Homo sapiens: one gene and its partner. The protein of the gene in region 1 interacts with the protein of each later gene in a pairwise test. Each region holds a gene or a part of one and is shown on either strand. Other genes may lie near its edges.

Evidence for each region. The genes of interacting proteins can lie anywhere in the genome.
Region 2: the proteins of TRAF3IP3 (region 1) and STRN3 interact in binary tests that used the Homo sapiens proteins (3 or more experiments, as listed by UniProt).

What each region holds. Positions count from the first base shown.
Region 1 is NC_000001.11:209,775,620-209,780,683, reverse strand, and holds part of TRAF3IP3 (TRAF3-interacting JNK-activating modulator), read right to left. Parts: coding exon 4,948-5,064; coding exon of another isoform or gene 4,560-4,947; intron 3,333-4,559; coding exon 3,197-3,332; intron 2,574-3,196; coding exon 2,511-2,573; intron 1,477-2,510; exon of another isoform or gene 1,370-1,476; coding exon 1,310-1,369; coding exon of another isoform or gene 1,281-1,309; exon of another isoform or gene 1,254-1,280; coding exon of another isoform or gene 1,231-1,253; exon of another isoform or gene 215-1,230; coding exon 78-214; exon of another isoform or gene 1-77. UniProt on the Homo sapiens protein: Adapter protein that plays essential roles in both innate and adaptive immunity. Plays a crucial role in the regulation of thymocyte development.
Region 2 is NC_000014.9:30,910,482-30,915,181, reverse strand, and holds part of STRN3 (striatin-3), read left to right. Parts: intron 1-1,524; coding exon 1,525-1,658; intron 1,659-2,999; coding exon 3,000-3,175; intron 3,176-3,357; coding exon 3,358-3,405; intron 3,406-4,019; coding exon 4,020-4,141; intron 4,142-4,700. UniProt on the Homo sapiens protein: Calmodulin-binding scaffolding protein which is the center of the striatin-interacting phosphatase and kinase (STRIPAK) complexes.

The DNA of each region.
Region 1 (5,064 bases):
CCCTGCTTTTTGACTGCCTCCCAGGTTTCTCTGCTATTTCGCAAATGAGCCCTCACTATCTCAGGTCACCCTCTCACCTCCTTTTCCTTGGCCTGGAGCTGCAAAGTCTTCTTTTGCAGCTGGTCTCTGAGATCCCAGTCTTTCTCCTTCCCTGTACCCTCAGGCTCCACTTCGTTAGGGAAGGACTTTGGACTCCACACGGGCAAAGCCTGATCTAAAAAAGCAGCCAGATTCTTGGTGACAGTGAGGCCCACACCTCTGAGGAAGGGCCCTGAGGGTGAAACCACTAGGAGTGGGGAGAGGGGAGGGAACTTGGGAGGGCGTGCTCTTGGCTAGACTGATGGCATTCTCTGACATAAAGGTTAACTTCCAGTAGGCCCCTGCTAAGCTTGGACAGACAGCTGGAATCTGAGCTCCTTGAGGGCAAGATTGGGATCTTTTCTTTGTATCCCCAGTCTTATCTAGTGCTAGATAGTTTTAGTGAATACTTCTTAATTGAATTTCATTGGTTGTATGTCACATTCTTCCTAGTTTGTCAAATAAGTTTGGTAAATGCTTTAATACAATCCCTTTTCCCTGATGTCCTCATTTGAAAGTTGTGAAGATGGCAGTCATATCCTAAAATTTATCTTCATATGGTTAAAGATGGTTTTTTAGCCACCCTGCAGTCTTAGTCTTGGTGAAAAGAGCATGGACTAGGAGTCAGAAGTTTTGGATTGTTGTTATAGCTGTGTTGTTAGTTTGTGTCACCATAGACTTTCATGTTCTTATCCATACTCTGTGAGCATAAAAATTTCTGCCTTATCTATTATATTATGCCCAATGATTGTGAAGAGAAAACAAAAGGTCGTGTGTAGTGGACAGGTGAGGAGCTATTGCCCCTCTGTATACACAGTGAATTCTCAGGAAACATGGACAGTAGACTCTCTAGGGCTAACAGTGAGTTGACTCTGGACTGCTATGTGGTTTGGGGCTGGGGAGTTGGATGTGATTTGGAAAATCAAGTGTGTAAAAATTGACATGAAATCCTGAGTTCAAAATAAATTTATTGAAATGTTCAACACAGACATGTGCTTTCAGAGAGAATAGAAACCCTTTTTCACAGTTTATATACCTCAAGATAGAAGGCTAACTAGTTGAAGTGTCCTCAGAGCCAATGATCAGTCCTTAAAAAGCTCCCACACATCCCGGACTTAACAGACTCCCAGAACTGGCTGGGACTCCAGGAGGTCATGTAGTCCATCCCGCTGCCTCTAGGCAGGTAAGAGAAGAGCAATATCTTAGAATTTGTGGTAATAAATTTGCTGACCTTTCTTTGTTAAGAGTTTCTCCTGTTCTTGAAGCTGTAAGGATTGATTTTGAAGCAAACCTGTTGGAAAACACAAGGAACTTGTCTATGCTAGCATATTTACTACAAAAAGTTTTCTTTTCAGAACTTTGCTTAGAACCTTGGTTATTAAATATGTTCCCATCTGCTGTGTGTTGAATTTTGTCCCCCAGAATATATATGTTGAAGTCCTAACCCTCAGTACCTTAAATAATGACCTTATTTGGAGATAGATTCTTTAAAAGATAATCAAGTTAAAATGGGGTCATTCAGGTGGGCCCCAATCTAATATCACTGGTGTCCTTATAAGAAGGGGAAATATGGACACAGATATGTTCATGGGAAAGACAATGTGAAGAGACACAGAGAGAAGACGGCCATCTACAAAGCCAAGGAAAGAGCCCTGGGATAGATCTTTCCCTAAACGCCCTCAGAAGGAAACAACCCTGCTGACATCTTGGATTTCTAGTCTCCAGAACTGTGAGACAATACATTTCTGTTCTTCAAGGCACCCAGTCTGTGGTACTTTGCTATGAATATAGCATCCTTATATCTCCCCCTACCATGTCTCTATCTTCAAGTCTTTGCTTGAAGATTTTCCCTTTTCCCTGTGGTTGCTTTGCTCTCTTAATAATCATTGCTGCTTTCATGAAGCTTCTCTATCAGGTGTCAGAGGTTAAAGTGGTGGGCAACCAGCAGCTGTATTAATTGAGTCAGGTTCTCCAGCTTTTCAGAAACTGCTTTTCTTCTGAGAAGTCCCTTTTCCTCTTTGGGCCCAATATGTAGTTTTGAAGTGGATTGAGGCACGTATAGTGTAAGCTTATTTTCTAAACCATCTCTAATGACAGGTCTATGTGACACATTCATGTACATAAATTAGAATATATAAAATAAGAACTGCTTTAGGAAACCCAGTATTTAAAAAAAATCTGCAGTTCTAGGGGAAATGTAAGTGGTGTCATTGGCATGGAAGGAGAACAGTAGAAAAAAAAGAACAGAGGCTAACACATAATTTATGGAGAGCTATGTAAATGACCTCACTTTACAAGAAGAGGGTCTGAAAGTGCACAGAGTTAGAGCATATGCCAAAGACTGGGCCCTTAGTCCCTACTCTGGGTGCCTTTTGTGGGCCAGGACCCCAGGAAAACCCTGTGGACTTTCAGAATCTGGAAAGCGAACTTACCCTGCAACTGCTGTACTCTGGTCACCAGGGTGAGTTTCTCTGCCTCTGACCTTTTTAGTTGATCTGAAAATGCAATAATGCAAGCCAAAATAAAGGAACCCAAGACTTAATGAACTCAGTACTTAGGATGGAAATTAGTAATAGATGCTGTCTTGTCATGGTCTTTAACGTGTGTCTATTGGAAGTTGCTCTATCTTCGTGTCCCAGTTCTGAAGAGGTAAACCAGAAGCCAAGTACCTCAGGTTTTTGTGCATCAACAATGTTGGGTTGCATTGAGGCTTGTGTTTACACACTATCTAGTCCTCTCTATCAGCGGACACAGAGGATGTGACTGAGAGACTTTCTCTATGCCTTGTGTTTCAACTGACCTTTCCCTTTCAAATTAGGACTGTGGCCTTGACATATGTGACTGATGTGGGAGCAGCTGTGATCTGGCCCAGAGGGATGGGCTAAAAAAGAGAGCTCAGACAACAAGATACTCTATCTACTACAGTGAAATTAATTTTCAATTTTGGATGATTAAAACAGTCCTGCCTCTCCCTCAAGGTAAAATGAGATTATAAAGCCAATCAACCAATCAAGCAAACAAATAAAAGGCTGAAGCCTTTCTCTTAATTCAGTTTCTTTTTTCTTAGCTCACTTGGCCATGGCTGCCATGCACTCAAGGCCTCCAAGGAGAAGAGTACCTTGTAGGTCCTGGGTATCCAAGCTGCACAGGTCTCTGTCCCCTTGCAGGCATTCAATCTTGGCCTGCAGTTGCTGGTGCTCATTTTCCAAAAATCGCAGGGCCTGGTTCATCTGTAAGTCCCTGCTATCTGCTCCCTGTAAGGAGGAGGAAGGGCCAATATAGAAGGAGGTCAGTGTTGGGGTGGAGGTTGGGGGGCGGGTACCATGGAAGAGGAAAATGTAGAAAAGTCTGGAATTTTAGAGATAGAAGGAATGTTAGGGAGATGAGAAAATAGAGAAGTCTTTCTTTTTTCCTATTTCTTCCCTTTGCTTTGTTCCTCATATTTATAACAGCAGATTAGACTTTTGATATTCACAAGGAACTCGCGTCTTTTATTTATTTATTTTTATTTTTAGAGATGGGGTCTCACTTTGTCACCCAGACTGGAGTGCAGTGGTGCCATCATAGCACATTGCAGCCTCGACCTCTTGGGCTCAAGCAATCCTCCCATCTTAGCCTTCTGAGTAGCTGGGACTACAGGCATTTGCCAGTAGTTTTGAAGTGGACTGAGGCATGTGCAGTGTAAGTTTATTTTCTAAACCATCCCTAGTGACAGGTCTAAGTGACACATTCATGTACATAAATTAGAATATATAAAATAAGAATTGCTTTAGGAAACCCAGTACGTTAAAAAATCTGCCATTCTAGGGGAAATGTAAGTGGTTGTCATTGGTGTGGGAGTCATGTCTTGACACTTTGGTAAATCACCAAATTAAGGAATACAAAGTCATTAGTTTTCTGGATGTTTTCATTTTCTCTTTTTTCTACTTCTGGCAGTATCAGTTTTTTTTTTGGTTAGGGTCTTTTTTTTTCCACAAAGATTTAAAGTTAAAAAACCCCTCACAAAAATCTTCATAGGAGTTGCCTTATAGGTGATGGGAAGAAGAAAACAACAAAGGTTGAGCTGTGGATACCACGCAGAGTGACCAGCTGGGTTCACTCCTTTGATAAGACTCACATACTCTGTCTCTTATCAAGTGGGCTGTTCTGAGCCCTGCTTCAGGAAAATTACAAAGATCAGCTTTTGAGGTGGATCCTCAAAATTCCAAACCAGGTAAATAAATCTATGCAAAATAATAGCTAATATTTACTGAGTGTTTTTGTGTGCCAGGCATTGTGCTAAGTGCTTTACATGGATCATCTTACTTAATACTCAGAACCACCTTATGATGTAGGTACTATTATCCTCATTTTAGAGATGGGGAAACTGAGGCTTAGGACAGATTGAAGATGATGGAACCCTTGAGGATGCCAAGAATCTAATTGTAATTGCTAAATGTAATTGCTTAAAATACACATTGGCAGAAAGTGTTAATACTCACCTGTAAATAAATTAGTGACATTCTTTCTTTGCCAACAGTGGGCAATTCTGAACTGGATGCTTTTTTGGGATGGAGTTTGGAGAGTGGGTTGGGAGATGACATTAGTAGGCTGATGAATATTCCAGCCAGTTCTTTTCATTTGGGTGGTGATGGTGTCATTCCAATGAACGCTTAGTTCATTTGCATGAGCAATGCAGACATCCTTGCTAAACTCAAAATTAGATTTCAGAGCCAAAACAGTGAATTTGGTACAAAGTAGTGGTGACTGAGGAACTGAAAGCCAGATGCTGTCAGCTGCCTTTGGAGTCCCTAATCCAGAACAGCTTCTTTCATCACCATCCCTCCTCCCCATACCCTGTCTTCCCTCCCCACCCCCAGTGCCTGGTACCTGCAGTTTGGACTGAAGCACGTGGAGTTGGCTCTCCAGCTCCCTGTGCTGGGTCCCAAGGGTCCTCCAGTCCTCCTTCAGAGCCTCATACTGGCTCCTCCACTCTTCACACTTCTG
Region 2 (4,700 bases), on another chromosome or scaffold:
CATTTTTCATGGGAATTTTTTTAAAATTGATAATCAGCTTGATTTTTTGTATAATGTGTCCCTTTTAAATTTGCTCATGAATTTTAAGTGTGTTTTGATATATTGAGTTTTATATTATGATTTGAGTATTTCTCCCTTGTTATCTTAATGTTAAAATTTTGCTTTCAAAGCATATTTGAAATGATATTGAAGGTTGTTGCTTAAACTATGACTGTTACAACAAAATATTTAGATAATAGTCATTCAATTATGGCAGAGTTTAATTGGTCAGTAGTATGTATAGAAAGGAAAACGCATTTTAAATAATTGGAACTGTTAATATTAACATGAAAAGCTGTAATAATGCACATGATATAGTTGAGAAAACTAAGTGAAGCTCAACCTGAGTTTAGTTTGAAATTGAAATGGCAAATCTGATCAGAAATTAAAGCTCTGTGGTCAAGATTACTTGCTTCATTTTAGAGTGTCATGGTAACTAGAATGGGACATTAAAATAAAAGTCATAGTCAAAGCTTTAAAGCTGGAAGACAGGCTGGGCGCGGTGGCTCACGCCTGTAATCCCAGCACTTTGGGAGGCCGAGGCAGGTGGATCACTTGAGGTCAGGAGTCAAGACCAGCCTGGCCAACATGGTGAAAGCCCATCTCTACTAAAAACAGAAAAATTAGCCGGGCGTGGTGGCGGGCGCCTGTAATCCCAGCTACTTGGGAGACCGAGACAGGAGAATTGCTTGAACCTAGGAGGTGGAGGTTGCAGTGAACCGAGATCGCACCACTGCACTCCAGCCTGGGCGACAGAGCAAGACTGTGTCTCTAAATAAATAAATAAATAAAGCTGGAAGACATTCTGAAGACCACGTGGATTAACCTTTTATAGAAAGGAAACTGACATTGTTGGTGGAAGAATTTTTTCCTAGACCATTGCTGTTACTAAAGGAATCTGAACAATTAAAGCTTCATTCTAGTGAACTGATATAGTATATAGCTGACTGTAAACCATTTACATTTCAATGTTTGTACTAGTTTTTATCAGGGACTAGGATGCCTAGTACTTCTTTAGAAAGCAAAAGGACTTGGTGACAACCTATTAACATTTAAAAAATACTATATGACTACTTTGAGGTCCTTGAGGTCCATGGTAGAGGTTTCCCCTCATGAATGCAAAAATCTGATATTTAACTCCATTATTTAATCAAAATTTGTCCTATTTCTTATTTAACATGTAAACTATAGTTATAATTGTACTGAAGTGATAAGAGATTTAGACAGACAAAGCTTTTGTGCCCTAGCTTCCACCCCAGAATAATATATCTAGTGCACATTTTATTTGTGGACAGTTAATACACCACAGTTCCAACACATTTGTTTAACACTGCTTAGTAACAGGATTTTTTGAGTAGAAGTGGGAAAATAAAAATTAATTATATTACTGAATATTGTAACTGTTAAGTGCTTAAATTTTCCCCACAATATTGTCTTGTACTGTATGATTTTTCAGCATTTAAGAAGCGGTTTTGTTCTTTATAGCTGAACCAATAACGTTTCCATCTGGAGGAGGCAAGTCATTTATTATGGGTTCTGATGATGTTTTGTTAAGTGTACTGGGCCTTGGAGACCTTGCAGACTTGACGGTAACAAATGATGCAGACTATAGTTATGATGTAAGTGCAGTTTTATTTTTAATTTTTTAATGATTTAATAGAAGGCTCCTTATTTTTTGGAATCACTTATAAAACAGAATTAATATCAAGGTGCATGGAAAAGATAAGTTTGTGTCAATGTGTTGATTTGAAGTGACATGTTTTTCTTTTATAACTACTCTCTTTGTGGTATTTAAATTTTTTTTTTAGGTATTTTGGTGGATTAACTAGAAGTTTGAGATGATTAATATATTGGTCAGTAAATACATCTTGAGTAGTCAACTCTCAATTATCTCAAATTAAGCCATATTTTGGTGTTAACAAGAAAAAAAATAACCTGAATCATATATTTGCCTTCAGAGTACTTCTTAAAAAGCATGTTTTATTTTTGAACTTTTATTTTCTTAAGGAAATATTTTAAAGTTTCTGAACATTTTAAAGTTAGCTTGCATCATTTCCTGAATACTTAACTCCTTCATTAGAGGATTGGGGAGTGGATGGAAGGGTTGGGGAGTGGGGAGTCCAGTGTTAGAGGTGAAACTTGTCTTGGATTTAATTTTTTCTAGTCATTAATATTTCAATTGAGAGTTAACTATACTTGTTAGATCTTTATGTTAATTGCAGTTTTTCAGCAATTTTTTTTTCTTTTTATAATGAGTTTCTTTTTTCCACGTTTTATACTTAACATTAGCATGCTTAGAGACAGCCTTTGGTGGGCTGGATTATTCTCATTAATATATTTTTTTAAGTATATAAGTGACTAAATTCCAGTAAACTTTTGACTGCTTTAGAAGTGGTTTCACAGCCTATCTTTACAGATGGAGAAATGTGAAGGTAAAAAGATAAACCTCTGTCAATATCAAGAATTATGAAAATGGGATAAAAATATTCTTAAAGGGTCTTTAGTTCAGACTTTCAGAAAGTACCTTAACTTGCTGCCTTTAATAATTTCACATGCTAATACGTTTTCTAAATGACAACTTTACTGTTAATACTGTACCGTTGGATATTTGTAATAACTTATGTAATTATTTTTCATGTAAAGTATTGCAGCAATGGTAGTTATTTTGTTCTCATCTGACATTTAATGGGAGCTTTGGGTTTAGCTTAATAGGTAAAAACAGATTAAGGAACTCTTCATTTGACCTAGGCTATTTGTAAGGCGAATGAAATTATTCTGAGTTATTATTAAATGATAAAGTTTTTTTAGAAAGTTTTAAAGGTACATTAAATTTCCACTGGACATTTTAGCCAACAGTTTTAAATATATGTGTTAAACACACCAAAAAGAAACGAACAAACACTCCACATGCCTTCCAGTTTACTACTTTTACCACTAAATATTGTGCTCTTTCCTTTTAGTTGCCTGCTAATAAAGATGCCTTTCGAAAGACATGGAATCCCAAGTATACACTACGTAGCCATTTTGATGGAGTACGGGCATTAGCTTTTCATCCTGTAGAACCTGTGCTGGTTACTGCTTCTGAGGACCATACCCTGAAACTTTGGAACCTGCAAAAAACAGTTCCTGCCAAAAAGCAAGTATTTTAGTGTTAGCCTGGTGTATTTCTTCCAATTTTGCTAATATAAGTAATTATTCCTCATTATTGTTGCATGTCTTTAATGCACACATTTGATCTAATGACTATTTAATATCAACCAGTGATTCATAGTTATTTAATTGCCTTCTCTTCCCCTACCCTTTTTCCCCCTCTTTTAGGAGTGCCTCTTTAGATGTAGAGCCTATCTACACATTTAGGGCCCACATGTAAGTTTTACTGAATTGGTATTTAATTAACATCATCATTATTGTTAAATATTATTTATCGGTCCTCAAACCTTGTAATTTTCTCAATGTTTTGTATTAGAAAAGATGTATTACTTGAATAATAGCTATTTAATAATTGTATTGGTGAGACTATGAATATAATAGTACCATTCAGGCCAGATGCAGTAGTTCATGCCTGTAATCTGAGGATTTTCGGAGGCTGAGGCGGGCAGATCACTTGAGGTCAGGAGTTCGAGACCAGCCTGGCCAACATGGTGAAACTCCGTCTCTACCACAAAATACAAAAATTAGCTGGGCATGTTGGCGTGCGCTTGTAGTCTCAGCAACTCAGTAGGCTGAGGCAGGAGAATCGCTCGAACCTGGGAGGTGGAGGTTTTACTGAGCAGAGATCACCACTGCATTCCAGTCTGGGCTGGTGACAGAGTGAGACCCTGTCTCCAAAAAAAAAAAAAAAAAAAAAGTACCAGTCAGGTGTACATGTTCTCTTAAAACAGTTTTTAGATATTACATAAATTCAGAGGTTGGGGGAATGGAGATTTGAGTTTCTTCTTAGAATTTATCAGTAATTTGTTTTTCCTCTCTTCCTACAATAGCGGCCCTGTTCTGTCATTAGCTATTAGTTCTAATGGAGAACAGTGTTTTAGTGGTGGTATTGATGCAACCATCCAGTGGTGGAATATGCCGAGTCCCAGTGTAGATCCATATGATACATATGGTAAGTAAAATGATCAAAATGTATTTTTTTTAAGTGAATGGAGCTGACAAAAGTAAATACCTCAAATATGATTACAAGGTTATTTAAACCTATATTAGTCACCTCATTTAGTTCTTCCATTTGCTAATAAATTGCTTTATTAAAGAGAAAAATTAGGAAATGTCATGCCATGGGTATTTAAGCCTATGAATTGATACTTTCTCTGTTGTTTAAAAAACTATATTAATTAAAATGTTAATTTAGGTAGTAGTTACAAAAAGAAGGAGGAAACAAAATGTAATCTAAGTAACAAAATTTTGAACTTAAGAAATAGTTTATATATTTTAAAAATATTAAGCAAAAGACAATGGAACCAACATCAGGGGTATAAATCATTAAAACTTTTTGGAGCCAAAAATTTTTTTTGTTATTCTTAGCTCATATCTACAAAAACATTCTTAATTTCAAAATGGAAGAAAAAAAAAAAGAAAGGAAACCTCCTTTGACTTGCAAATGTAGCTTTTAGAAATCTGTTCTACAGAAACACCTACCTGTACCTGTGTTCAAATATATTTGTAAG